Linked DNA regions of Homo sapiens. The protein of the gene in region 1 interacts with the protein of each later gene in a pairwise test. Each region holds a gene or a part of one and is shown in the gene's direction. Other genes may lie near its edges.

The links.
Region 2: the proteins of TOLLIP (region 1) and PRPF39 interact in binary tests that used the Homo sapiens proteins (3 or more experiments, as listed by UniProt).
Region 3: the proteins of TOLLIP (region 1) and KRTAP7-1 interact in binary tests that used the Homo sapiens proteins (3 or more experiments, as listed by UniProt).
Region 4: the proteins of TOLLIP (region 1) and MSX2 interact in binary tests that used the Homo sapiens proteins (3 or more experiments, as listed by UniProt).

What each region holds. Positions count from the first base shown.
Region 1 is NC_000011.10:1,272,421-1,280,035, reverse strand, and holds the end of TOLLIP (toll-interacting protein), read left to right. Parts: intron 1-2,782; coding exon 2,783-2,997; 3' UTR 2,998-5,665; downstream 5,666-7,615. UniProt on the Homo sapiens protein: Component of the signaling pathway of IL-1 and Toll-like receptors. Inhibits cell activation by microbial products. Recruits IRAK1 to the IL-1 receptor complex. Inhibits IRAK1 phosphorylation and kinase activity.
Region 2 is NC_000014.9:45,092,936-45,102,788, forward strand, and holds part of PRPF39 (pre-mRNA-processing factor 39), read left to right. Parts: intron 1-2,285; 5' UTR 2,286-2,304; coding exon 2,305-2,628; intron 2,629-3,167; coding exon 3,168-3,293; intron 3,294-3,951; coding exon 3,952-4,070; intron 4,071-9,593; coding exon 9,594-9,761; intron 9,762-9,853. UniProt on the Homo sapiens protein: Involved in pre-mRNA splicing.
Region 3 is NC_000021.9:30,826,835-30,835,194, reverse strand, and holds KRTAP7-1 (keratin-associated protein 7-1), read left to right. Parts: upstream 1-5,435; 5' UTR 5,436-5,496; coding exon 5,497-5,760; 3' UTR 5,761-6,156; downstream 6,157-8,360. UniProt on the Homo sapiens protein: In the hair cortex, hair keratin intermediate filaments are embedded in an interfilamentous matrix, consisting of hair keratin-associated proteins (KRTAP), which are essential for the formation of a rigid and resistant hair shaft through their extensive disulfide bond cross-linking with abundant cysteine residues of hair keratins.
Region 4 is NC_000005.10:174,727,582-174,731,396, forward strand, and holds the end of MSX2 (homeobox protein MSX-2), read left to right. Parts: intron 1-1,577; coding exon 1,578-2,002; 3' UTR 2,003-3,315; downstream 3,316-3,815. UniProt on the Homo sapiens protein: Acts as a transcriptional regulator in bone development. Represses the ALPL promoter activity and antagonizes the stimulatory effect of DLX5 on ALPL expression during osteoblast differentiation. Probable morphogenetic role.

The sequences.
Region 1 (7,615 bases):
TAGGTTTTCTTCTTTGTGATAACGCTCTGTGGAGTGAGAAGCAGCAACAAGCCTTGGGAGTTCCGGAACAGTCTCTGAGCTGGACGGTCGTCCCCACCTGCTCTTTGGATGTCTTTCCACTGTGGTGCGAGACGTCTGGAGCCCAGGGCCACATGCCTTCAGCCTGAGCAGGGCTGATGCTCCCCTGCCCACCGGCGGCCGGGACTTACCATGCTGCGTGGTCTGAGATCAGGGCCTTCTCGGAGCAATTTTTCCTGAATGGAAAAGGGACAAGTTTTGGTTTTCCTGGGTATCCTTGTGTTTGTCAGTAGAGAATTTGATTTTGCCAAGATATGACAGCAGATTCACACGGCGTGAAGAACGTGAGGTGGGGCCTGTCCTGTGCTGCACATCCGTCCGCGTGCGTGCAGGTGGCTGGTGGGGCTGAGCGCGGCAGATGGCAGGGACACAGCAAAGCCGCCCATCACTCCTCCCAGGGCCGCTACAGGTGGGCTCTGGGCTGCCCCGGGCTCCCATGGCGTCCTCTCTGCCCACATTTTGGGGACTTTGCTCTCCGCCAGGCCCCAGAGCTCCTGGTCTGTCCTCCTGAAGTCCCCAGGCAGCCTTGACACATACGCTCACCGTTCCCGGAGGGCTTGATGGACACATCCGTGCTTGGTAACCAGGATGGGCCGGCTCAGGCCAGGCACATGGCCTCTGCCCTGCAGGAAGGAGGGGAGTGAGCCAGGCCACTGCCCCTCAGCCCACACCGTGGAAGCACCCACCTCTTCCCCCGGGGGTGCCTGCTCCCCAAGTGAGTGTGTTGGGGCCGTGCTGTTGGGATTCACTTGAGGGCCAGTCGGCGCCACATCCCCTCATTGTCAGCAGAGCAGGTTTCTCGGGACACCCCAGGCCGTGACGTCGCAGCGTCACAGCCACCGTCATCGATTTTGCAGCAGTTCCCCTCCTCCTGTCCCTTCCCCATCAGACTGGTAAAGGCTGGAGAGAGTGGGAGCACGGTGCCTCCGTTCCTCATGTTGCCACGCTGTGGGGAGACGTGTGGGCAGGGACAGGCGATGGCCGAGCCCCATTCCTCTTGTTGCCATGCTGTGGGGAGCTGTATGGGCAGGGACAGGTGATGGCCAAGTTCCTGCCCGCCTGCCAGCCGGGGCGCCCAAAAAGCCACGGGGATCCCAGGGGTCCCTCCAGGACAGACAGCGCCCAAGCCTTTGTCTTGTTTGAGGAAGAAGAAAGGGTGGTGAGGGTGGCCACGTCCCCACCTGGCCATGGTTCGGTTCGTTTTCCGTCATTGCCGAAAGGCTGATGAGCATGGGGATGATGCTTCCCCAGTGAGGTGAGGTGTCCAGTGGCCAGGACAAGAGGCAGGTGTGGGTGTGGAGGAAAGGTGGGCCTGGCCCTGAGAGAGCCGAGAAGCAGAGGAGGCAGGGGTGGGTGTGGAGGAAGAGTCGGCCTGGCCTAGAAGGAGCCGGGAAGCGGTGGCCTTCCTTGCTGAGGAGTCCTGGCCTTTGCAGCAGGTGCAGGAGGCTTGGTGGCAAGCCCTGTCTGCTCCGTTTACACCCCTGCAGGTCTTGTTGCTGGTGTTGGTTCAGGCCAGGATTGAAGTGGCTTCTGCTGCCTTTAGGATCCTCCAAGTGTAGAAAGGAACAAAAGTCCTATCCTAAGATTGGGGCTCTAGCGCTCCAGTGATCCTAGCTGGGAGATGGTTCGTGCTTTTAAAGGTGAATGAACGGGTGAGCAGTGAACCCTTGCACTGCTGCAGCTGCTGCTGCAGGAGGAGCTCTGTGCCTCGCTGGTCGCCGAGCCCCGCGCACGCTGCCTGTGCTCTGTGCCTCACTGGTCGCTGAGCCCCGCGCACGCTGCCTGTGCTCAGGGCTGCTCGTGGTTTTAGGGAGCGGCCACCAGGCTGGGAGGCGAGTCTTAAGTCCGGCCACACGGTGCCTTCAGGGGTGTGTGTGCTGCAGTGGCTGAACCGCCGTGCGTCTCCTGCTCGATAGATTGCATCTCAGTGTGTCCTCCCGCATCAGACATGGGGCGAGGGGCCTGCGTAGCTGTGGGGTGGAGATGCCAGGAACCCTGGACGGTGGCCCCAGTGCACTGAGGGTCCACTGTACACCGCACCTGCTGCCCCACTTGTTTGAGTTTTGTGAGCATTTTCTTGGTGTAGTTTGTATGTGTGTGTGGGGTTGTCATTCTGGGCATCGGCTGCAGCTTTGCTGAGGTCTTCAGTGCCTGTGGTGATTGTTCCCCACCGGCACACAGTTTAGTGACACACTTGCCAAGCTGCAAAAGCATCTTCTAGAATGCCTGATAAAGGAAGAGGCTCAGACCGTGCAGTGTTTGGATCAGCGGGCGTGACATTCCGTGTAGTCCGTCCCCAGATGCAGAGGACTCTGTGAGCCCACTGGTCAGTGAAGACGAGCGTGTGCAGTGCAAATTCACGAGTTCTGAAGGGATCAAAACACCACCCCCAGCCTGCTAGTTATAAAACAGACTCGGGTGAGATTTGAAAGATCAAACTTTGATTTTTATATGGAAGGAAGATGAGTTAGTGAAGGAGGCGTCACAGAGGGCCCTGCCCACCTTCCCCGTGGCTGTGCCTGGGGTTGCTGTTTGGGGGTTTGCCTTTCCAGGGTGTCTTGCGGGACTGGTGTTTGCTGAGACCCGAGGTGGCCCCTTCCTCAGGGAGGCCGGTGGGATGCGTTGTTTTCTTCCTTCAGCAGGAGCTAGTGTGGCACTTCTGGAACTTTCCGACGTTTTTACCAAACTTGATCTTTGCTTCCAGGGATGCCCGCTGTCTGTAGCCCCGGCATGGTGCCCGTGGCCCTGCCCCCGGCCGCCGTGAACGCCCAGCCCCGCTGTAGCGAGGAGGACCTGAAAGCCATCCAGGACATGTTCCCCAACATGGACCAGGAGGTGATCCGCTCCGTGCTGGAAGCCCAGCGAGGGAACAAGGATGCCGCCATCAACTCCCTGCTGCAGATGGGGGAGGAGCCATAGAGCCTCTGCCTCGATGCCGTTTTGCCCCCGCTCTTTGGACACGCCGACCCGGCGCTCCCCAAGGAATGCTGTCCCAACAAGATTCCCGTGAAAGAGCACCCGTGTCGCCCCCTCCCGTGGACTTCTGTGCCGCCCCGTCCACACCTGTTCTTGGGTGCATGTGGGTTTTCGGTTCCTGGCGGTCCAGGACGGGGCGGGGGCTCCCCTCCCATCTCGTGCTGGGAGGTCTCAGCGCGCTCTCCTGTCCCTGGGACGTGCGTCTCTCCTTCTCATGCCGTTCTGGAAAATGCTCTTGCTGTAGAGAGCAGCTGCTTCTGCCAGGGTGTTGGAGGTGGTGGAGCGCCTTCCGATTCCATTCATGGCATTTTGTGATGTGATGTAATTGGAATAGAGCTGTTGATTTAAGGCACACACAATCCCTCACACTGTGGGTTTTTTTTAGAACTTCCCAGACGAAAACTCACGCCCTTGCCCTAACGCGCTTTGCTGTGAGCCTGGCCCCTGCCCAGGGCTTGGGTCTGGTGAGCTGAGCAGCTTCCTGTGGATGGTGTGGGGCCGGCCTCTGGCCTGGCTCACCTGGCCACTGTCCAGCCAGCCTTGTGACAGACTCCGGCCTGAAGGCAGAATGAACCCACACCTGGAGTGAGGAAGGGGGCCTGGCACGGTTGGCCAGGCTCTGCCTGATTGCCAGCCAGCGGGCATCTGAAGCCGGGTCCTTCGCCCGCCGGAGGCTGCCGTCCGTCTCTCCTGCTGCGCTCGTGCCAGCTCCGTGGGTGTCCTCCCAGGGAGCTTCTCTTCTCAACAGGCCTTGCGAGGCTGGGGTGAGAGGTGATAGAGGCAGCACTGTGCATGATTCCGAGAGGGTGTGGTGGCACTGCCAGCCGACTGCTGACAGCTTGGGAGCTGCTGTGCCCAGGACGTGGGTTCAGCGTGGGCGAGGAAAGCCTGGCGAGCGTGGCCCTGTAAAAGCTTTCTGAGGCGGGAGGCGCTCACTTACCTCTGACTGCCTGGGCGCTGCGTGTAGCATCTTGGCCTACAGGACAGATTTTAGGTGACACCTGGTTATGACAGTCAGAAATTTGAGAAGCTTCTCACAAGTGATGCACTTTAAATAATCTGCATGCCATTGAGACACCTGCATGTCTGGTGTTTGTGGTTCAAGTGTCTTGCCGCCGGCCTTCGGATGTAAACCCACTGATAACGGACAGAAAGAGAATGCCCACAAGTGGGTCTTCTGTGGAAGATGCAGAAGGAGGAAGTTAGTGCTTACATTTTAGTCTTTTTCTCCCTCAAAAAAATAGGTTAAGTTTCAGTGCCAGCTAGAAAATACTGCTTTCTGCCATCGATTGGGGGTGGTTTTTGTCAAATATACTGTTGATAAATATTTATTTTTGTAAACTTGAAGTGTGTGGTGGCCGTGGGGGAGGGACATGCTGGCAGCAGGCGCCTTCTTCAGCTGTGGGTCCTAAAGGCCTTTGATCCTTTGAAGAAGAAAGACATGGTATTTGTTCAGCAGACGCCGACCACTCAGACGGAGGGGCCCCTGGGATTCCCTGTCTCAGATGGCCTGGTCTTACGCCTGTGTAGATTTCTTCTCCATTGGGAATGAAGGTGTCAGGCGGGACTGGAACGTTCTAGATGGTATGTTCCGTGATATTAACAACTCTAACCCAGGACAGACCACAAGCCACACTCAGAGGCCTCACTGTGCTGGGGGCTTCGGTGTCCAGGCGCCCAGGTGTGGCCACCAGCACCGGTTTCTGCCTTCGCGTTGCTGGGGTGCAGTGAGACTGCCACACGCGTGCACATGTGGCTCTGTGGGTGTCTCCTAGAGAGGACGTGGCCCCTGCTGCCAGCCCTTGAGCAGCCCGTGTGGGGGCCCGAGGGACCCACACAGTGGGGGCCAGCCTCGCTGGAGGGAGAGCAACCCTTTGCCGATGACCACGCTTGCCGCCATCTCTTAGTTTTCTTTTTCACAAGCGCTTTATTTTTTTAATAGACAAATCACATTTTGCAAGGCCTTTAATTAAATAAGATTCTTCTTTCCTTCATTTTATGCTTTATTTCCTGTTTGAAGGCTTACTGTAGAAGTGGCTTACTGTAGAAGCAGCTTGCTGAGCCCCTCCGAGCGGTCCCCAGAATTAGCTGGTTCACAACCCCCACCCTCCCCCGCCCCCGCCTGTGTCAGGTGTGGATGAGGTCGTCACACTCAGAAGGACAGGCTTGTCTGCCAGCTCACAAGGGGAGGCTGCAGTGGGTTTGGGAGCTGGGTTTAGGCCCCTGGTGTCTGAGGGCCCAGGCCTTGCCAGCCTCTGCTGCTCCTGCTCCTGGGTTTGAAGATGCAGGCCGATCGCCAGCTCCGTGGCAGCGGTCACTAAGGACAGCCTGACTGTGCCATCTTGGAGCCTCAGGCGGGGCTCCGGAGATAGAAGACAGGTCGCCGGAGGCTCCCCCTCCTCTCCTCTCCCCTCTGCAGATGCTCCCTGGGCGCTACCCTGCAGGGTGCCAGGCAGGAGTGGTCTCAGAACGTGCGCTTCTGATTATTTTACTGGGGTCCATTGTCCAGATTTTTCTTTGATTGTAAAATATATTTTTACTTTTTAGTCTTCTAATTTAATAAATGATCCATATAAAAATAGAGAAATAAAGTCCTTTAAGGGAAGGTTTACCATGTTTGTTCCCGAGTATTTTTTAACTTAATTCACAATACGCAGGAGTAACGAATCAGTCAGAATCAGAGTTCACTCGTCAACAGACTGGGAGCAGGAACCTTACACCTTCAGACCAAGCCTGGCCTTTGCTTCCCAGATTGAATTAGAGGAGGGAAGTCCCAGGTGCTCCTCCCTCAACAGTGGCAGTGGGCGTGGGTCTGCTCTTCCAGCCCAGGCACCCTCTCCCCACTGGGTGGTTCTGTGGTGCCTTTTCATTTCCAGGCCATTTCCATCTGGGAGTGAGCGTGGAACACGACCCCGTTCTGAGAGAGCCCACTGGGACCGTGGCACCCCCATCTCAGGAGTCTGAGCCCCTAGTGATGACTGGCTCATGCTTAGGGAGCAAAGCGCCCATAAATGTGAGCAGCACTCTAGAGACCCCGAGCCACCCTGGCACCCGGGCACGGACGCGTTGCTGGAGCGTCCATGGACACGGTGGGGTGTCTGCCCCCTCTCTGCTGCCCAACCCCCGAGGCATGCCCGCCGGTTCCCTGCCTCCACCTGAATGTGGCCTTTCTGCAGTGTTGACTCCACAGCAAACTTCCAGCCGTTACCTCTGTGGCTATGACTGATGGCATCAGTTCTTCTGTGGAAAAGACCCCTGGGCGTGGGACTCCTGAGCAAAGATGGACCCGCCTCCCCTGCCCAAATCCCAACCTGCTTCCTGGTGCCCTGTCCCCATCGCCGGGCGTCCCCATCGCCGGGCGTCCCCATCGCCGGTCTGGCCTCTCTGTCCCAGTGCTGTCTTGGTGCAGCTGCAGTTAGGATCTCTTTATTTTTTATTTTTTGTATTTTTATTTTTTAATTTTATTTATTTATTTATTTTTTTGTTGAGACAGGGTCTCACTCTGTCACCCAGGCTGGAGTGCAGTGGCGCGATCTTGGCTCACTGCAAGCTCCGCCTCCCGGGTTCACGCCATTCTCCTGCCTCAGCCTCCCGAGTAGCTGGGACTACAGGCGCCCGCCACCACGCCCGGCTGATTTTTTTGTATTTTTAGTAGAGACGGGGTTTCACCGTGTTAGCCAGGATGGTCTCGATCTCCTGACCTCATGATCCACCTGCCTCGGCCTCCCAAAGTGCTGGGATTCCAGGTGTGAGCCACCGCGCCCAGTCAGGATTTCTTTTTTTAGGAGCGAGTTTGAGCACAGCCTTGCATTCCGGGCCCGTGTTTCCCGTGGGGCTGCCTTTTTCTTTTGTCTCCTCGGCTCTTTTCACGTTATAGACGGTAACTGCGCGATATACACTGCACGTTCTTTCCCTGCTTTATCATTTGTTTATGTTGCTAATGATTTTGTCCCGTGTAAAATTTTCTTTTTTAATGTTGTCACGTGTTCATCTTTTTCCTTATCGTTCCTGGATTTCTGTTTATCATTAGGAAAGTTTTTCCACATTCAGGTTTGAAAGGCTCTTCTCTCACGTATTTTCCTTTTTTTTTTTTTTTTTTTTTTTGCCCTTCATCACGGACCCCACTGGAGGCACCAGGCCCGCTGCGCAGGATGGACCGACCCTCACTGTGCGGCGCGTTCGCAGCCCCCGGATCCCTGGGCCCGGCCTGGCCTTCCCGGCACCCCCTCCTCCTGCATTCCCGCAGGCCTGGCCCGCGCCCGGCTTCTCCTTCTAGAGGCTTCCTGGCTGTTCGTGTTGGGACTTACCAAGGAACTTCTTCCGGATAGGCTTGTTCAGAGCTCATTTAATGAACTCGGGGAAAGTAGCTTCCCACGCGCGCATCCATCGTGCGGACCCCCCGGGGGCCGCTGCGCTGAGGGGTGAGGGGGTCGCTGGCCGCCTGCGGGTCCCTGAACTCCGGGGGTTTCCAGCCTTCTCGAGGTTTCCATGGTTACCTGGCTCCGAAAGAGACGACTTCTCTTTCCCTCCACCCTGCCGCAGCATCCCAGGCCCTCGCTGG
Region 2 (9,853 bases), on another chromosome or scaffold:
ATAGCTGGCTTTTTAAAAAAATAACAAAAAACTTCTCCCCCCATTCAGTTAAGTAATTGCAGATAGGCAAAAAGAATAAAGCACACATCTCTCTTTTGTATGGAGAACAATTGTTAACACCAGCTGCCAGTTTTGTATTTTATTTTATTTGGTGTAAATCCTTACAAATCTGTGAGTGCATGTGTGTATGCATATATATGTATTTAAAAAATCTATAATGGATATTTTTCTGTATCAATACAGATGTACATATTTCCTTTTTAATTCTTATTATTCCATTATATATGATTTATTTTTTTTTTTTTGAGACGGAATCTCACTGTATTGCCCAGGCTGGAGTGCAGTGGCACGATCTTGGCTCACTGCAACCTTCACCTCCCGGGTTCAAGTGATACTCCTGCCTCAGCCTCCCGAGTAGCTGGAACTACAGACGTGTGCCACCACACCCTGCTAATTTTTTGTATTTTTAGTAGAGATGGGGTTTCACCATGTTGGACAGGCTGGTCTTGAACTCCTGACCTCAGGTGGTCTACCCTCCTCGGCCTCCCAAAGTGCTGGGATTACGGGCATGAGCCACCGTGCCTGGCCGAGTATACTATTTATTAAAGCAGTCTTTTTCTTTTCTTTTTTTTTTTTTGAGACGGAGTTTCACTCTTGTTGCCCAGGCTGGAGTGCAATGGCATGATCTCGGCTCACTGTACCCTCCTCCTCCCAGGTTCAAGAGAGTCTCCTGCCTCAGCCTCCTGAGTAGCTGGGATTACAGGCATGTGCCACCACGCCCGGCTAATTTGGTATTTTTAGTAGAGACAGGGTTTCTCCTTGTTGGTGAGGCTGGTCTCGAACTCCCAACCTCAGGTGATCCGCCTGCCTCAGCCTCCCAAAGTGCTGGGATTACAGGCATGAGCCACCACGCCCGGCCAAAGCAGTCTTTTTCTTAATACACCCTCCAGTTTTGCTGTACAACAGTGCTGGTAATGAATGCCCTTAAACAAATACATGTTTTTTCTGATTATTTCCATAGTATAAAATATGTACAGTTGCTATTTGGTACACTCATTATTTTGATTTATGTCTTTATTAGTAAAGATATAGGTCTTTTTTATGTTTATTGGTCATTTGCATTTCTTCCTTTGCATTATTGTCTTTAAAGTTTTAGTCATCTTTTTAATTAACTACTATTAATATATTAAGTAGTAGTATATTCTAAGTATATTTTAAGAGTAAATCAGTTTTATGGTCTGCTTAATTTTGAGAATAATTCCTCATTTTAAAAAAAATGAGACATGCCCTATAATTTAATGATTTGGTTTCCATTTAAGCTGTTAGTGGAAGAGATGAAGGTAATTATGAAAATATAATGTGGTATTACCTTAAAGGGGTAATTGCTTATTACCTTATAGCCTTAAAAATTAGATGACATAATTTTAAGTATATTATGTAGTTATTATCCAGACTGTAAGCCTTTCTCAAATATGTTTTTTAGAGGTAGGGTCGTGCTCTGTTGCCCAGGCTGGAGTATCGTAGCAGGGTCAATGCTTACAGCAGCCTTGAACTTCTGGGCTCAGGTGATCCTCCTGCCACAGCATCTCCTGAGTAGCTGGGACTGCAGCTGTGTGCCACCATGCCTGGCCCCTTAAATGTGTTTTAAGTAACATTTATTCACTTTAAAAATTACTGTTTAATTTTTTAAAGCCATAATTTATATCTTATATAATAAAGTTGAAACCTAGCTGTCAGGATTTATAAATCGTAAGTATATAGATATATTTAAGCAATATGATTTTATCTTTTCTAAAACTTTATCCTGAGCCAAGTGATGAGCTTCCTTTTGAAATGTTTATACCCATGACCAGAATTTTTGTCAGTTTTACTTTTAGCCTCCAGAACAGTTGTTAAAGATATGCCGTTTTCCAGTGATTGATAGCAAGGTAACATTCAGGCACCGAATCAGATTCTTACCTAAATAAGAAACATTGAATTTTAAATAGTATTTCTTCATTGGGTAGCAGGCAGTGTACTTATTTGTTGTTTGAATGAGGTAACAAATCCACAGTTATTTGGTTTTCATTCAAATACCAACAACAAAATGGCAGTTTTGTGAAGAATTTATAATTTTATTTACAATATAAAAACTAATGAACCTTCTGATTCTGACTTGTAGGGGATTAAGACTCACATTAATATTTCTTTAATAGCTAAATTAGGGCTTTTTAAAAGGTGTTGTTGAGGCCAAATAATTTTATTGGCATTTGGAAGATATTTCTCTTTTTTTCGTGTTTCCACAGATCGTTAACTGAAGACAATATGCAAAATTCTCACATGGATGAATACAGAAATTCTAGTAATGGCAGCACAGGCAACAGTTCAGAGGTAGTGGTAGAACATCCTACTGATTTCAGTACTGAGATTATGAACGTTACAGAAATGGAACAGTCACCTGATGACTCTCCCAATGTGAATGCATCTACAGAAGAAACTGAAATGGCAAGTGCTGTGGACCTTCCAGTGACGCTGACAGAAACAGAAGCAAATTTCCCTCCAGAATATGAAAAATTTTGGAAAACTGTAGAAAATAATCCTCAGGATTTTACAGGCTGGGTATATTTGCTTCAATATGTAGAACAGGAGGTTAGTAACTATTAAAATGGTATCAGAAGGGACAAATTAATCAAGTCATTAATTTATAATGAAACAGTAGACCTTATTGTTTATGATTAAAATTGACTCATAATTTTCAAATGAAGTTGAATAACATTAGGTAGCTACATTTTTAGCTTTGAAAATAGCTTACAGCTTTTGTATGTTGTAGAGAGTCAGTAGTGTCAAAGCTTAATGTTTTGTAATAATTGAGGTGTAAATGTGTGTGTAAAATTGCTGAAATAAAAAGTTGGCAAAATTAGTTCCTTCTGTTTCAATTGCGTTTAGAAGAAAAAGGGGGCTGCTGCCTGTGTAGGTTTTTTTTTTTTTTTTTTTTAAGTGAAAGCAAGTTTATTAAGAAAGTAAAGGAATAAAAGAAGGGCTGCTCCATCGGCAGAGCAGCCTGCATGTGGAGTTTTTAAGCCTGCCATTTATTATTATTTTTTTAGATAATAACGTTTGAAAGGAATAATAAATATTTTTTTGACAGAAATTTCCACAATATTTAAATACTGTTTTATTTTTATCAGAATCACTTGATGGCTGCCAGGAAGGCATTTGACAGATTTTTCATACACTATCCGTATTGCTATGGTTACTGGAAAAAGTATGCAGACCTTGAAAAGCGGCACGACAACATTAAACCATCAGATGAGGTGCGTACATCACTGAATAAACTTATCTCCAATAGGTACTGTAAGCCAATTAATAACAAAACAAAGATTTTTTTTTTTTTTTTTTTTTGGCTGGCAGTACCTACCATTTATGGTCAAACAATTTTTATAGGGTATTTATTTGCATTTGTCACTCTTGTGGCATTTGTAGCTAATATTTTCTCTCTTTGTTGGCAGGTGCGTTAAACCTCTACAGTTTGTCAAGCTTTGCAGTGCAAGCCTCTGTATTACACTGCAGCTTAACAAGTAGGGCAGGGCTTTTCTCTCACTTACATTTATTTCTCATTTTCCAAACAATATAGTTGGTTTGCTAGTCACATTTGCTACGTCTTATTGCATTTTTGGTCAGACGCTGTCATTGATGCTCTAATGGGTCTGTGCCCTATGGTCTGTAACCCAAAGCCTGCCCACACAACCCGGTCAGAATGCAGGGACTGCTGCGCTTTGAAGATCAAGACTCTGCACGTGGGGATCAGAACATTGCCATGTTCTATCCAACCTCCACCCAAATGGTAATGGTAGATTATTTAAACAAAATTCCAGTAATTAGTATTTCTAAGGTTCACCGGATAACACAGTGTTGCCTCTCTGTTAAGAAATAATTAAATATTTGAAGTACAGTTTGCTGTTTTCTTCTTAGGTTTATCGGCGGGGGCTTCAGGCAATACCTCTTAGTGTTGACCTTTGGATACATTATATAAACTTCTTAAAAGAAACATTGGACCCTGGTGATCCTGAGACAAACAATACAATAAGAGGGTATGTGGAACATTGATACTGAAATGTTTTTTATGATATAAATAATTATTCTGATGTTGATAATAGAGCTCATGAAAGCTAAGCTGGAAGTTTAACTTCTATTCCATTGTTAAAAAAATGATACATGTAATAAACTTAAGCTTTATGATTTGAAAATGCAGATAATAAAGCCCTCCTACAGTCCATGCCTCTTATGTCCCCAATTCCACTCCTCAAGGTTAATAGCTTGGTGTGTGTTCTTTCAGATATATGTATAAGTACATGTTTATGCGTATGCTTTCATACTGCTCTTTGACTTTTTTTTTTTAATAATGTTTGGGAATCTCTTCCTGCCATATTTTTTAACAATTACAAAAAGTATTTTATAATACTTTATAAAAAGTATCTTATAAGCCAAAGTACTCTATTTCACCAAATCCTTATTTATAGGAAATAATCAGTGCTACAGTGAACATCTCTGTACAAGTCAATATTTTTTGTAGAATGCACTAGAAATGGAACTTCTGTCAAAGGGAACACACAGCTCAGTTTTATCAAATGTTCCTTCAAAAATGGTATCGATTCTAAACTCCCACAGTGTATGAAAATAATCATTTTCCCACAGCTGTGCCACATTTTTTGTTTGTTTTACCTCCAGTGGCATCTCTTTTAATTTGTTTATGTCTTGATTGCTCATCCTGGTTTACCATGTTCTCATATGCTTATATAAGCCATTTTTTAAATTACCTGTTGATATTATTTGCTCATTTTTCTATTACATTATCTTTTTCTTGATTACAGTAGTTTGCTAATGTACTTGTTTTTGGTTTTCAAAAAAAAGCATGTGCATATTGCTTAAGAAGTTAGCTAATGTTAAACTGCTTGTAACAAAAAGTACCACCTCCACCTCCCTTCAAATATTTTAGCTCTTTCTTCTGGTATTTTCCACCATGTGTTTAACAGTAGATCTATGTTGCTTTCTTTCTTTCTCTGTTAGCTGTAGACATTATGTATCTGTTACGGTAAGTGAGAATTTTAACCCACTTACACTTTGTTTTCTCATTCCTTATCTTTCCAATATAGCTACAGAATAGGTTTCAATAATCAGCTTCAGTATTTTTTTTTAATCATTGTAAATCCATAAATAAGGATGGGCACAGTGGCTTATACCTGTAATCCCAGCACTTTGGGAGGCTGAAGTGGGAGGAGCGCTTGAGCCTGGGAGGTTGAGGCTGCAGTGAGCTGTGATTGCACCACTGCACTCTAGCCTGAGTGACAGAGTGAGACCTTGTCTCAAAAACAAAAAACATTAGCTGGGCATGGTGGCGCATGCCTGTAGTTCTAGCTACTCGGGAGGCTGAGGCAAGAGAATCGCTTGAACCTGGGAGGTGGAGGTTGCAGTGAGCCAAGATCGATCGTGCCACTGCACTCCAGCCTGGATGACAGAGCAAGACCCTGTCTCAAAAAAAAAAAAAAAAGAGAGAGAGATCAAAAACCTATAAATATTTTTCATCATACTGTCTTTTCATTTTATAACCTTTTTGGTTTTTAATTGCTCCTCCCCTGCCCCTCATTTTTCCCGTTTGTCTAATTTTCTTTGAACATTTAAGGTTTTTTCATACTCTCCAGCAGCTTTGTAGAAGGCTTTAAATATAGCTTTCTATACAATCAGATCTGTTAAAAAATGTGTAAGTCCCATTTTTTCCTCTCCTTTGAGCTGTCTCCTGGAAACCTTCCTACTATAATCTGGACTGGTCTTCTAGTTCTGCTGTACAAGAGTTGTCTTGGGATTTTCTTATCATCATGGTTCTAGGAGATGTCTTTACCTCACTTCTGGGTGAGTTTATTATTAGATCTCACTCTTTTCTTGATTTCATGTCCAACTTTTAGAAGAGTGTGTCCTATAACTTCTTGTTAAAGGATGCTTGGATGAAAAAATAATTTTAAGGTTTGGTAAGCTGTAGAATTTGGAGTTGAAAATTATTTTCTCCATAGAGCTTTGAAGGCATTATTTATTCCTTTATAGCTTCTGCTATTGCTTTTGAGAAGTCCAATACCATTCTTGCAGAATAGATTCTCTTTCTATAATGTGTTTTTCCTCTGTGGAAGCTGTTAGGATGTTCTCTTTGGGTCTGATGTAAATGAAGTTTTATAAAAATGAGCTTTGATGTGGATTTTCTTTTTCTTATTGTGATTATTGGGTGATTGGGTGAGTCTTTTCATTCTGAGATTCTAATGTCCTTCTATTCTTAGAAATGTTATTATTATGGATATTCTTATTTTGACAGTTTCCTTGCCTTGATTTTCTCTGTTGTTTTTAATAGTTGGATGTTGGACCTCTTCTTTTAATTACTGAGTTTTTCTTTTCTTCTTCCTATTTTTCATATCTTAGACTTTGTCTGGCTTTTTGAGGTATTTCCTTGACCCTTGTATTGGATTTTTAACATCTTCCATCAGATTATTATTATTTTTTTTTTTGAGACAGAGTCTCCCTCTCTCCCCCAGGGTGGAGTGCAGTGGCTCGATCTCGGCTCACTGCAAGCTCCACCTCCTGGGTTCACGCCATTCTTCTGCACCAGCCTCCTGAGTAGCTGGGACTACAGGCACCTGCCACCACGCCTGACTAATTTTTTGTATTTTTAGTAGAGACAGGGTTTCACCGTGTTAGCCAGGATGATCTGCATCTCCTGACCTCGTGATCCGCCCGTCTTGGCCTCCCAAAGTGCTGGGATTACAGGCGTGAGCCACCACGCCCGGCCCAGATTCTTAATATCCAAGAATCTTTCTTGTTCTCTGAGTGTTCCTTTTTTTATACTCTCCAATTCTTGTTTCATGGCTGCATATCTTTTTGTTATTTCTTTGATGATACTAAGGATAGTTGAGATTTTCCTCTGTTCCCAGGACGGTTTCCTCTCAAATTTTTCTGTTTACCCATTTTCATCTCTGAGATATGTGATCTCTGGATTTTTGTTCCTATTACAGATTAGATATTAACAAGCTATATGAGCCAGGCACAGTGGATCACTTGAGGTCAGGAGTTCGAGACCAGTCTGGCCAACATGGTGAAACCCTGTCTCTACTTAAAATACAAAAAAATTAGCTGGGCATGCTGGCAGGAGTCTGTAATCCCAGCTTCTCAGGAGGCTGAGGTAGGAGAATTGCTTGAACCTGGAAGGCAGAAGTTGCAGTTAGCTGAGATCGTGACATTGCACTCCAGCCTGGGTGACAGAGCGAGACCCTGTCTCAAAAACAAACAAACAAACAAACAAACAAACAAAACAAAACACAAGCATATGGAAGCACTGTGTGTTTTGTATGGGGCATTGTCAGTTGGCCTATGGTGTTTCACAGTAGTGTAATCATGTGGCCACTCTTTTTGCTGGTGGATTCCCAGTGATAGTAACCTTATATCTTATTCCTGAGCCAAGCAGTTTGTTTAGAAAAGGATAATTTTATTTACTTGGGGAATGGACACCTAGCTTCTGAAATCCCCATAGCTGGGCGGGAAAGTTGAAGATTTCTCACGATTCATTAAGTATACCTTCTTCTAAACGTTCTGTCTTCATTTCATTACCTTCTTGTCTTCTTCCCCTTTTCTCCATACTTTTTTCAGTGTCTGGTTAATTTTCTGAATCATTTGGGGTTCTGTAGGGACAGTAACATCTATTTTATTCTTTTGAAAACCTTACACCAAATATGCACATGCATGCATGCACAGACACACATGCTCTTCAATCTTTTATTTCTATATTAAACATATTTCCTCCAATGTTGGTATGTTTTTAACTTTGTTTATGGTGTCTTTTATCATATGGAGTTTTATTTTTCCTTAATGTGCTTCTGTTTTAATTCTTACTGGTTCCTGAGTTTTGTGCCTATTTTACCAAAAATATATAAATCCTGTATTTTGTTCTAACTTTTCTATAGTTTTTTGCTTATTCATTTATCTGAATTTAATTTCTATCTGTCGTGAGATAGACATTAGCCTTTTATATACTCCCACTGTTGAATTAAAGTATCTCCTATATCATACACCAAATACTCACACACATTGATCTCTTTTTTGTTTTCTTGGCTCTGTACTGTTCATCCATTTTTCTGTTACCTGGCCAGTGCCAAACGTGTAATTACTATAGCTTCCTAGTTTCTTATATTATCTTTCAGGAAAATGCCTGCTGCATTATCCTTTTACAAAGTCATTTTGCATTTTTGTATTCTAGATGAATAGTAGAATTTGATTTTTTCTTGTTCCACTAAACATTTTTTAGCGCTTTATTGAAATTGTGTTAAAATTGTGGTTTAACTTAGGGGAGTGTAGTTTTATACTTTTTAAAAATCTCTCTTGATTCTAAGATACTTATCTTGAAAGTATGTATCTAAAAGCTTTATCCCATTGGAGTATTAAATCCAGTGATTAAAATTGCTTACAGAAATCTCTTGACATGACTAGGTATTTTAAAATACTTTGTAACAAACTTTTTTTTTTTCTTTGGAGACAGAGTCTTGCTCTGTCATCCAGGCTGGAGTGCAGTGTTGAGTGGTGCAATTTCAGCTCACTGCCACTTTCGCCTCCCAGGTTCAAGTGATTCTCATGCCTCAGACTCCCGAGTAGCTCGGATTACAGATGTGCACCACAACGCCTGGCTAATTTTTGTATTTTTAGTAGAGATGGGGTTTCGCCGTGTTGGCAAGGCTGGTCTCAAACTCCTGGCCTCATGTGCTGGAATTACAGGTGTGAGCCATCGTGCCCAGCCTGTGATAAAACTTTAATGATAGAATTTTAGAATTGAGAGGGGCTTTTGAGAGGTTTAAAGTATATGTATACTTTTTTTTTTTTTTTGAGACAGAGTCGCGCTCTGTCGCCCAGTCTGGAGTGCAGTGGTGCAATCTTGGCTCATTGCAACCTCCGCCTGCCGGGTTCAAGCAATTCTCCTGCCTCAGCCTCCCAAGTAGCTGGGACTACAGGCATGTGCCACCATGCCTGGCTAATTTTTTGTATTTTTGTAGAGATGGGGTTTCACCATGTTGGCCATGTTGATCTTGAACTCCTGACCTAAGGTGATCCTCCCGCCTCAGCCTCCCTAAGTGCTGCGATTACAGGCATGAGCCTGTAATCACGCCTGTAACCATTTCACCATGCCTCATGAAAATATTCTTAAATTGAGATAAAATTTGCCTCTCTTTAACTTCCTACTTGTTTTAATTTTGTCTTCTGTCATAAATCAATCTATACAATAGACATTTCAGATTTAACAAATACTTACATGTCTACTCTTACCTATTTGCAATGTGTACATTTTGTATTTAATTTTCTATTTGATAAAGTTACATAAAAAGTACATTTATCTATTCTCTTTGTTTTCTCACTCTTTTTAAGCAGCTGTTGTATGCTTTCTGTTATTCTGTCTACCCTTTAATCCCTACTTGCATAGGAAGCAGTTGAATATAATTTTTGAAGTTAGCATTATCTTCTAAATTTAGAAATAATATTTTAAAAGTGATTTTATCTTGGAAAGATAACTTAAGAGTAATTTAATTTTTCAGAACTTTTGAGCATGCTGTTCTAGCTGCAGGAACAGATTTCCGTTCTGACAGACTGTGGGAAATGTATATAAACTGGGAAAATGAGCAGGGAAACCTGAGAGAAGTTACAGCTATATATGATCGTATTCTTGGTATTCCAACACAGCTGTATAGTCATCATTTTCAGAGGTAGGTGGGAAATTCTGATCATTGAAACATCTTTGATTACTCAGATAGTTGGTAATATTAAGTATTATAATTATCTTGGAATGTTATGTAAG
Region 3 (8,360 bases), on another chromosome or scaffold:
AGGCCACAGTAGCTGGTATTTAGGAATAACCCTGTAGAGTGGAAGGAGAGTGGGACGAGGGAAGCCAATGAGGAGGCTCTGGCAGTGGCTCAGGGCAGAGATGATGGTGTGATGAGGTGACAGCAGAGAGAGTGAAGAAGTGTGATGGATTTGAGCTATGTTTTGGAGGCAAAGCTGACTGGACCTGGGGACAGAGGGGTTGAAGGAATTATCATTAAGAAAGAAATTTAGTTTGTGTTCTAAGCAGTTTGGTGGTAGTGTTATTTACTGAGATGAGAAAGGCTGGAGAAGAAGTGAGTGTCTAGGAGAAAATTAAGAGCTTAAGTTTTGACATGTTAAAAATTATTTGTACATGAATATTCATAGCAGTATATTTATAACAGCCAAAATTGGAAACAATGTAAAAACCTGTTAACTGATGAATAGATAAGCGAAGTGTGGTATATTCATACAATGGAATGCTATTTGACAATAAAGAATACTGATATGTGTGATGACATGGATGAATATTGAAAATATTGGGCTAAGAGAAAGAAATCATACACAAAAGGCCACATACTGTGTGATTCAATTTATGTGAGGTGTCCAGAATAGGAAAACCCACAGAGACAGAACTTAATTTTGTGTCCAGGTGGTGTACAACATTTGGGAAGAATCTTTAAAAGCTACCATCGGCCGGGCACGGTGGCTCACGCCTGTAATCCCAGCACTTTGGGAGGCTGAGGCGGGTGGATCACCTGAGGTCAGGAGTTTGCGACCAGCCTGGCCAACATGCTGAAACCCCGTATCTACTAAAAATACAAAAAATTGGCCAGTTGTGGTGGTGGGCGCCTGTAAATCCCAGCTACTTGGAAGGCTGAGGCAGGAGAACCACTTGAACCCGGGAGGCAGAGGTTGCAGTGAGGCGAAATCGTGCCACTGCACTCCAGCCTGGGCGACAGAGCGAGACTCCGTCTCAAAACAAACAAACAAACAAACAAACAAACAAACACTACCGTCACTTGCCCCATTCCTCTTGCCTTGTTTGTAATATTTCAGATAATGAAAGCACTGTCAGCTTAAGTCTTATGAATGAGAACTTAGTTTAGTTGTTGTAAATTGGGAGTGACTTTTAGTGGTTATGGAGTTTCTTTTTGGGGTAAAGAAAATGTTCTGAAATTGGTTAGTGGTGATGGACTCTATAAATACACTAAAACCCACTGTATACTTTTTGTACACTTTTGGGTGAATTTTATCATATGTGAATTACATCTCAGTAAAGGTGCTATTCCAAAGATGGTTTGATGTGGTATTCTGTTCTGAGTTTTCTAGAAAGCAGAGTTTCAGGTGAAGGGCTCATGTACTATTGCTTTCTTCAGGAGAAGGAGCGAAGGGTAAGGGAAGTGAAGCAGGGAAGGTGGAGTGCTCAAATGAAGATGCCTCATCCAGTTGACCATAGCTAAGCAATTATGTGCTGGATTCCATGACACTATTCCCCAAGAAGCTGCCTAACCCTCTTAGGACTGTCTCAGGCAAGTCTGTCCATGGAGAAAAGGGGAGAATATATCCACACTTCCATTTCTTTTTGGTCGAAGTTTTGCTCCACAGGGCATTAACTGCCCTACACTTCAGGTTTTGCAAGCATGGGCCCTAGATAGGCTCCCCAGTCTCTATCCTAGCTATTAAAGGTGAAGTCCCCAGGTGGGGGATGACAGATATCTGGTGAGGGGACTGATGTAAAGCTCCATCATGTTGTACCAGCTTGAGGTGAGTTGGAACCTACACCAAGATGATTCCTATAGGGGCAGCTGCATAAGAGGTGGGAGAGGCTGGGAGGCTATGAGTGGGGTCTGATCCTTGCCTGATAAAAGTTCTCAAATTTCCAAGTGAATATGTCATGTAGGCTCCTTATTGCTTATTTTTTTCCTTGTAAATACTATGTGTCAATTCATTTTCTCTTTTCTTTAAAGAAAATACATGCATTCAAATAAATCAAATAAAATCTGGTGTTAGAACTAATCTCTCCCCCCACCAAATCAATTGGCATTGAGGGATTTTCTTTGTAAAACTAATATTTATGGCAACTTTTCCCTCAATTAGAGTACATAGTGATTAGGGGGAAATGGAGAAAAGAAAACAAAGAAAAGGAATTAAAGCTACATGCTAATCTACAACCAAAGGCTGACTAATATTACATGAATTGCACAAACAACTTATAAAACCTCTATATTTAAAATTGTTCAGGATTAGAATTATCAGGACCATTTTACATTATGATATGTAAAGTTCTAAAAAACTTTTTATGTCTGCCCTCATCTAATCTTTTGAAATATGTGTTAAAATCTGTTAAAATTATTTTAGCCCATGTAAGGAATAGAAATTCAGTGGAAGTCATTAATGTTGTTCGGTGACATTGTAGGCTTTCGCCCTCCAGGCACATAGTAGCATTGCTCTTCGTGACCTGTGAAGTTAGATGTGGCTGTGGAACTTACTTTAGGAAATGAGGAGAGTGTGGAAATGGTGTATAACACTTGAGGAGAGCCTTTAAAAGCTACCATGGCTTGCCCCATTCATTTTCCCCTGTTTGTCATATTTCAGATAATCAAAGCACTGTCAGCTTGAGTCTTTTGAGTGAAAATGATGTGTATCCAAGACAGTCACCAATGTGAGAGGAATTCATAGTGTGAGCAGGCAATACATTTCTGAACATGGAAATTTTGGATGTCTGTCTGTTATAGCAGCAAAAACTAGCCTTTGTTTTTTTGTTTTCTAGTTTTTAGCAGCAAAAGCTAGATCGATGTGTTCTTCAAAAAATAATGCAATGAATTATAGATTTGAGGCATGTAGAAGCTATATCCCTTTAAAGCCTTAATGACATATCAAAAGCAGGATAGTAAAGTAGTTAAGAGCATGGCTTGGAGGTAGATGGCATGGGTTTGGAGATTGATTCTGCTGACTATTAACCATGTGACCTTCAGTAATTCTCTTAAACCCTCTGGACTCGGTTTTCTTATAAAGAATCATAATACCCACATCATAAGATCATTATAAAAATTAAATGAATTAACACTTGTCAAATGCTTGGAATAGTGCATAGTAAGCCTTCTTACTATATATAGAGGTAAAATATATAATTAAGTAGTATGTGCAAATTCTTTAGAACAGAGTCTAGCACAGAGTAAGTCCTTAATGATATTTTTTGTTATTATCAATCTTAAAAATCATTGAATAGCAATCGAGTACTTGGCTGATAATTTTCTCTGGGTATGTCTAGTAAGAGATAGGAAAGTGAAAACAAGCTAAGGAGAAAATATAAGTTTTTCTTTTGATTATGGGTAACAAAACCAGCAGTCACATAGGTGGGTTTTACCTCTGAGGAGACACTTGAACACATTGCTGTTACCTTCCCTTTCTAATCAGGTGTGTCCTGAGACAAGAAGCAGAGAGCATCAAGAAATGGAAGAGGACAAACTAAAGCTTTTTCTTTAATTACCTCTATCATCCAGAGTTAAGGGAAATAAGTCACCAGCGACTGAAACCAAACACTCCTGCCAATGAGAGATAAGCATCTCTGGGCAATTTCACACAGCCCAGCAAAAGCTTTTTTGAATTCTCATGACAAACCAGCCCTGGAATTTATCAGGATGATTTATTCATCAGAATTACCTGAGATACCCATTACAAATAGAGATTTCCAGAATCTCAGGTGGTGGTGGGAGAGGAGAGCTCCTGGAATTCTGAATTTCAAGCGAATTCTTTAGAAGATTCTTCTACCTGCTTACATTTGAGAACCCTAAATCCAGTCCTGTGGTTTATACGGAGTAACTGAAATACCACTGCCACCTGGTGGCAGCATGTACAAATTACAGGTTCCAATGTCATTGTGTGATAGAATCAGTAGTGAAATTTTTCAAGTCACGCGTAATTCTTAGTCACCCCTGCCCTCTCCTAATCACAAACGTATTTTTGAGTTTTCTGGATTATCTGATACAGAGTTTATATAATTTAAACCCTGAGGACACAACCTCTTACCATTTTAATTCATTCTTTTTGTTAAACTGAATTTGAAATTATAACTTATTTTTCTTTAACTTTCTCTATATACTCTTATGACATTTAATTAATTTGTAGAATAAAAGAAATCATATCCACTTATAGAACATTCTTTAGGCAGCTCTCTGTCAGAGAAACTGAGAGAGATAGAATCTTAAAGAGAGAGGGATGTCTGAGAGGAATGATTAGTTTTGCATATTGGACTCTGTGATTGTCTGTTAAGATGGAAATAAAAAAAGGAATTGGTATTCAGGAAGTTTTTTCTTCTACTTTCAGAGAATTCTGACTTTGATTCACATATAAAAAGATGATGTCGTAAACCTTTGAATTGGAATAGACTTAGCTTTGCTGAGCTCAGATCCTTCCTGGTTTACGTTCTTCATGAGAATTGGTTATGTAAGGCAAAATAAGAGCAGAAGGAAGTGTTGCATCCTTAAATATAACTGGTATTTCATAATGGATCATGGCATTCAGGCTTGTTTTATAGGAGTCAGTAAGAAGCAAGTGTGGTATAACATGACTCTGAAATTGAGCATCATCCCACTCAGCGCCAGTGTGGCAACTCCAGAAAGACAGTTTGGCAATGTTCAAGATGATTTACAAGCAAACATGGTATGTTCTCCATGAAAAAATAAAATATGTATTAACAAACAGAATGCTCATAAATGAAATTGATGAAAATTACTTGCAGGTTATTCACAGCCAACTTATTATTTGGCACCATTGCAGCCTCTGTAAAAACACCTGGTTGGATAGATTTGTGTAGCAGTGCTTTTTAAAATAAAAAATACATTTTGAGTTAAAATTTGTATAACACAAACCAAGGCATTTTAAAGGTAACAATTCAGTGATATTTAGTACATTCCAAATGTTTTGCAACATTGTCTAGTTCCAAATGATTTTCTTCACTCCAAAAGGAAACTCTGTACCCATTAACTAGTTGGTATACAATTGTTTTAAAAGGGCACATGGGTGAATTTCAAGAGGTTATAGAATTTCAGTTTGATGTTTCAAAATAATGTTCAAAAGACCTCAATATATGGCTTTGTCTTGGCTTGAAGTGTTTGCATTCTTGCCAAAGCTTTTTTAGTTTAGCTATGTCAGTTGGGAAGAGTTTATAATCAGAGGATTTAAAGAGTCTCACATGATGCAATCAAGAACAGTAGTTAAACTATGGGACTCTGATGAAAAGAATTCGATTGCGTGTCAAGCATGGTCACTGGCTTTAAAATAGTACAGAGAAAAGCCAACAAAAATGTGGGCAATGAGTCTGTGCATTCCTTATAAGCATTTTATTAGAAAAGAATGAGATTACCTATGCAAATTAGTGGGAAGATGTTTAGACAGATGTGTTGTGCCCACCAGCTTGAGGTATAAAAAGCCCTGTACGGGAAGAGACCTTCATTAACACTTGGGTAACTTACCCTTCACAATCCATCTAAATCCTTCTCAATTGCTGCCACCATGACTCGTTACTTCTGCTGTGGAAGCTACTTCCCAGGATACCCTATCTATGGGACCAACTTCCATGGGACCTTCAGAGCCACCCCCTTGAACTGTGTTGTGCCTCTGGGCTCTCCCCTGAACTATGGCTGTGGATGCAATGGCTACAGCTCCCTGGGCTACAGCTTTGGTGGTAGCAACATCAACAACCTGGGCGGCTGCTATGGTGGTAGCTTCTATAGGCCATGGGGCTCTGGCTCTGGCTTTGGCTACAGCACCTACTGATGGACCAATGGCTCCAGTGACTACAGGACTCTCAATTAATTCTCTGCACAGAACAACCTGAAGAGCAATGACTGTCTTCCTACCTTCCCATGTGCTTGGGTGATACATCTTCCATCTTCTTGCTGACTTCTTGCTGTGGTCTTTGTCTTTGATGCTGTTGGACAAGTCACCCAGGACTCAGGTGCTGAACTGATACTCATCTACAGACAAAGGAAGCAAGATGCATTTTTTTGGTCATACTTGAATTTTAACAGTGAAAAAGTAGTTTGCCTCCCATGGTTGCTCTGCTCATGTATTATTAGCTTCTACATCAACATTAATGTATTACAAATTGGGTGTGGGTAGTAAGGGGATTTTCTGTCAGTCTCTTAATAAATCTATTTCCTTCAGCATAAATATTTTTGTCCTGGTTATTTATTTCACTTCTCTTTTATGCTCTTGAATTCATCAATCAGTTTAAACCCGTAATGGTTGACTTTAACCAAATTTTATTCTGATTTCAGACTATATAGCCAGGATAGGGTGATGCCTAACCATTTTTTATTTTTATATTGATATTTCAATTTAAAAAACTCCCTGGAAATGTCCCGTATTTAACCCAGATATACTGCAATTGTTGGCGTTTCTCAAAGCTGATTATAAAACAGGAATATTTCTTAGCTGTTGAATGCTAAAACATGTTTTCTTTTCTCTTTTCCTTAGTGACAAGATTCCATTTTGGTTCATTTCTCCTTTCCTACTGTTTATAGAACTCAGCTCTGGGGAGATTTGAACCCCTCATGTTGTTGGAAGAATTGGAACTAAATAGACTTAGTTATGAAACTCTATCTTTAAGAGTTCCTAAGATTTGATCAATAAAGGGAAGCCAACTACTAAAATCACATATTATTTTTTATCCTTTTTTGATAGATGGGTTTATTTTCTCCACTTTCTTCACCTCTGATTATACATATAACTAGTACTAAAAATGAAGTGTTTATTCTTTGAAATAATAGTTGCCATCAAAAGCACTTGAAATGGTATGTTGTCTACACTTAGAAAATGCTCCCTGTCGATCTAGAACTAGAAATAACATTTGACCCAGCCATCCCATTACTGGGTATATACCCAAAGGTCTATAAATCATGCTGCTATAAAGACACATGCACACGTATGTTTATTGCGGCACTATTCACAATAGCAAAGACTTGGAACCAACCCAAATGTCCAACAATGATAGACTGGATTAAGAAAATGTGGCACATATACACCATGGAATACTATGCAGCCATAAAAAATGATGAGTTCATGTCCTTTGTAGGGACATGGATGAAATTAGAAATCATCATTCTCAGTAAACTATCGCAAGAACAAAAAACCAAACACCGCATATTCTCACTCATAGGTGGGAATTGAACAACGAGATCACATGGACACAGGAAGGGGAATATCACACTCTGGGGACTGTTGTGGGGTGGGAGGTAGGGGGAGGGATAGCATTGGGAGATATACCTAATGCTAGATGACGAGTTAGTGGGTGCAGCGCACCAGCATGGCACATGTATACATATCTAACTAACCTGCACAATGTGCACATGTACCCTAAAACTTAAAGTATAATAATAAAAGAAAAAAAAAAGAAAATGCTCCCTGTCTTGCTTACTGAAAAATCTCTGCTTTATTGAAGCAAAACACTTTATGTTTGAATTAAAACTCATTCATTCACATATCATGTATTTATTGCACCTCTGCCTGAGAGAAGGTGCTTGATTAATTGTTCATTGACTTTACTTGTTAAATCTCTGCTTTATGGGTGCAAAATATTGTATTGTCCAATGTAAAGTTCATTCATGCATGCATCAGGTATTATTGGGCTGTGGCCACTGTGTTAAGATATTTACAGTTGTAAAAACAACTAAGCAGAGGTGTTTTTGATATGAGAAGCTGACTGTCTTCGAGATTTATTCATTCAAGAGGTACTCATCACATAGTATAGCACAGCATTGTCTTAAGATTTGGGGACACAAATCTTAGAGATAACTGAAACACAATTTATGCCCTTAAGAATTAAATACACTTTATTCAATATTTAAAGGGCTTTTAATAGTCTCCTATTTCATGTCAATCAATGTGCTGTAAATGACTATCCAAAGACAGATAGATATTCCTTACTCATTTGCTTCCTAGGACCTAAAATTGGAGACAGTCTGTGATAAGAACCATGTATACACACAAAGTGTTACAGGCTTGCATAGAAGGGAAGCTTCGGTACGTAAACATGACCATGAGAGGGAGTAAGAGTTACATATCAAGTTAGATATGGCTGTGCAAATGGGAAAAAGAATAAGGCTATTTAAGGATGAAATAGGTTATCACTGGCAAGGCTCCAATGCATAGGTAGGATGACCTGTTGGTGGAGAGATTCCAAGGGTGTTGAGTACTGGATAGGTGATTTGAGATCTCTACCAACCATAAGACTTTAGATTCTATCTTTATGACTAACATTTATTTTCTACTTTAAGGCCATAATTGTTTTGTATTTTGTTAATTAGTTTTTATTTAAAAAAATTTCAAACTTATGAAAAATTTGCTGTAATAGTGCAAAAAAGTCCTGCATTCTC
Region 4 (3,815 bases), on another chromosome or scaffold:
ACAGTGTTGTTAATTTGTAAATTAAGAAGCTGGCTCCCCGGCTGTCTAGTAACTTAGGGATTAGCAAATGCAAAAGTATAGACTTTTATGGTAGTTTCTTATCCTTCCCTTTCCCAGATTTCTGTTCTTTGGTTGGTTACAAAGCCTCTTATCTCTTTTTGATTCAGTAAAGTGATGGGTAATAATGCGACACTGGAACAAATCCATCTCTTGTTGGAAATGGAAGCTGGGTTGGGACTTGTGCTGTGTCACCCTCAAGTATGAAGTGTAAACTCTTTCTTGGGCCACCAAAGTAACTAAACAAGAAATGCAACATTCTCCCATGAATACATTAGAGTTAATACTGTGGCCACATTTGGAAAATTAGCATAGCTCGTAAAAGCCAAATGCAGAAAATTAATTGTTAAGTATTCTATCACCACAGCTCTATCCTCCTCCGCCCACCCACCCTTGAGGAAGACAAGCCCAAAGTTAGTTGATGCTATGGAATCACAAGGATGTCCCAGTCCGTGATTTGCTGTAATTGAATCCATTTTAAATGTGGAGTCTGGATGCTGTTGGCATACCTTTATTTTGCTTGTTTTTCCCCCTGACAAACAAATCATTTACACATTTGCCCGAAGCCATAGAATGGGTAGAGGGGATGACTAAGATGTCATCACGTGCTCTCAATTTGGAGGCAGCATGATTTCCCCTGACATTTACATTTATGGGCTAGCTAATTTTTCCCTTCGTCTTAGTAAAGTTTATATTACAGAAGCGCCCAGCCAAGAACCTTATCCCACATCCAGATCTGTAAAATGATGTTCAGATTTTATAATCTGTGGACTGGATGCAATGACAGCTTGTGACTGTTTATTGCGTGGGACTGCCCCCAAATTCAAAGATGCTATTAATTTACCACAGACCTTATCTGCACGATTATCCTTCATAAATATGCTGACGCAATCCACTTTTTCTGGTTCAGAGAGGAGACCAAGGGAAACAGCTAACCCGGTTGCTAAAACCTTTTTCATTTTCCTTCCCATATGTGATTGTCTCCATGTCCAAGGGAGGCTGGGCTAATCATGAACCTGGTCTCCCATTTTTAAAGAGAAGATAAATTATGCTCAGAAGAGATAGCGGTTCATTTCTCACCGACCACTTGATTCCCTTGTCTTACATTAAATGTTCTATTTCTGTTATCTCTAATGCTGTTTGTTTTCCATATAGAAGGTTCAGTTACACCATTACATTTCCAAAACTTTTCTTAAAAAACTCATTTTTAAAAAACGAAGCAACTTACCCATTTATATATGGTCCCCCTCCCCCCAAGAAACACACATAGTTTTGACAAAGGTACCTTTTTCAAAGATGAAACAAAGTATGTCTTTCCATACATAGATATGTGTGTGTGTGTGTGTGTGTGTGTGTGTATATGTATGTATATATAGATTTTTTTAAAGCTAAGTGCTTTCAGTTGAGAGGGGAGGCCCGAAAGGAAAAAACCTAGAGAGATGACGGGGGAGATGGGTTTTTTTTAGTATTATTTTAATGTAACTTTCTTTTGCTAATCCGCTCCTCTCTCTGTTCTCTAGGACATATGAGCCCTACCACCTGCACCCTGAGGAAACACAAGACCAATCGGAAGCCGCGCACGCCCTTTACCACATCCCAGCTCCTCGCCCTGGAGCGCAAGTTCCGTCAGAAACAGTACCTCTCCATTGCAGAGCGTGCAGAGTTCTCCAGCTCTCTGAACCTCACAGAGACCCAGGTCAAAATCTGGTTCCAGAACCGAAGGGCCAAGGCGAAAAGACTGCAGGAGGCAGAACTGGAAAAGCTGAAAATGGCTGCAAAACCTATGCTGCCCTCCAGCTTCAGTCTCCCTTTCCCCATCAGCTCGCCCCTGCAGGCAGCGTCCATATATGGAGCATCCTACCCGTTCCATAGACCTGTGCTTCCCATCCCGCCTGTGGGACTCTATGCCACGCCAGTGGGATATGGCATGTACCACCTGTCCTAAGGAAGACCAGATCAATAGACTCCATGATGGATGCTTGTTTCAAAGGGTTTCCTCTCCCTCTCCACGAAGGCAGTACCAGCCAGTACTCCTGCTCTGCTAACCCTGCGTGCACCACCCTAAGCGGCTAGGCTGACAGGGCCACACGACATAGCTGAAATTTGTTCTGTAGGCGGAGGCACCAAGCCCTGTTTTCTTGGTGTAATCTTCCAGATGCCCCCTTTTCCTTTCACAAAGATTGGCTCTGATGGTTTTTATGTATAAATATATATATATAATAAAATATAATACATTTTTATACAGCAGACGTAAAAATTCAAATTATTTTAAAAGGCAAAATTTATATACATATGTGCTTTTTTTCTATATCTCACCTTCCCAAAAGACACTGTGTAAGTCCATTTGTTGTATTTTCTTAAAGAGGGAGACAAATTATTTGCAAAATGTGCTAAAGTCAATGATTTTTACGGGATTATTGACTTCTGCTTATGGAAAACAAAGAAACAGACACAATGCACACAGAAAATATTAGATATGGAGAGATTATTCAAAGTGAAGGGGACACATCATATTTCTGCATTTTACTTGCATTAAAAGAAACCTCTTTATATACTACAGTTGTTCCTATCTCTCCCCCGCCCCCCACCGCCCCACCACACACATATTTTTAAAGTTTTTCCTTTTTTAAGAATATTTTTGTAAGACCAATACCTGGGATGAGAAGAATCCTGAGACTGCCTGGAGGTGAGGTAGAAAATTAGAAATACTTCCTAATTCTTCTCAAGGCTGTTGGTAACTTTATTTCAGATAATTGGAGAGTAAAATGTTAAAACCTGTTGAGAGGAATTGATGGTTTCTGAGAAATACTAGGTACATTCATCCTCACAGATTGCAAAGGTGATTTGGGTGGGGGTTTAGTAATTTTCTGCTTAAAAAATGAGTATCTTGTAACCATTACCTATATGCTAAATATTCTTGAACAATTAGTAGATCCAGAAAGAAAAAAAAATATGCTTTCTCTGTGTGTGTACCTGTTGTATGTCCTAAACTTATTAGAAAATTTTATATACTTTTTTACATGTTGGGGGGCAGAAGGTAAAGCCATGTTTTGACTTGGTGAAAATGGGATTGTCAAACAGCCCATTAAGTTCCCTGGTATTTCACCTTCCTGTCCATCTGTCCCCTCCCTCCGGTATACCTTTATCCCTTTGAAAGGGTGCTTGTACAATTTGATATATTTTATTGAAGAGTTATCTCTTATTCTGAATTAAATTAAGCATTTGTTTTATTGCAGTAAAGTTTGTCCAAACTCACAATTATTTTAAGAGGTGTTCTCTGTTCTTAGCTGGGCTTAGCTCGAAAGTGCTACCCACATGAGGGGGAAGCTGGTCTTTTTTAATATTTTAATGTAAGTCAACCAAGAGTTGTGGCCAGATTCAGCCATGTTGGGGTGATTGGTGGTGGTGGGGAGTGAACTGAAACTACTGAAATACTTTGAAATGTTTCCTCTGGCAGCTTGTTACTTATGGAAAAGAGGTGGAATTGCTGCGAGGAGTTTTTCAGAAAAAGTACAGTGAAAGATAAGCTTTAAATAAGTGGTGAGGCGGAGATCGGCCAGCATCTAAATCATTTGTACATGATCAAGGGAAAATCTTGAACTTGAAATCTCCCAGCTACCAACACATCAAACTTAAAACTGAGGAAAAGGGTCCTTATAGCTGTTTGCAAGTGGACATGGTAACGAGGCGCATTCGCTGGGCTGGGGGATGGAAGCCGGCTCCCCTTTCAGGAGTGTGTGAAATCGCATTCCGTTTAC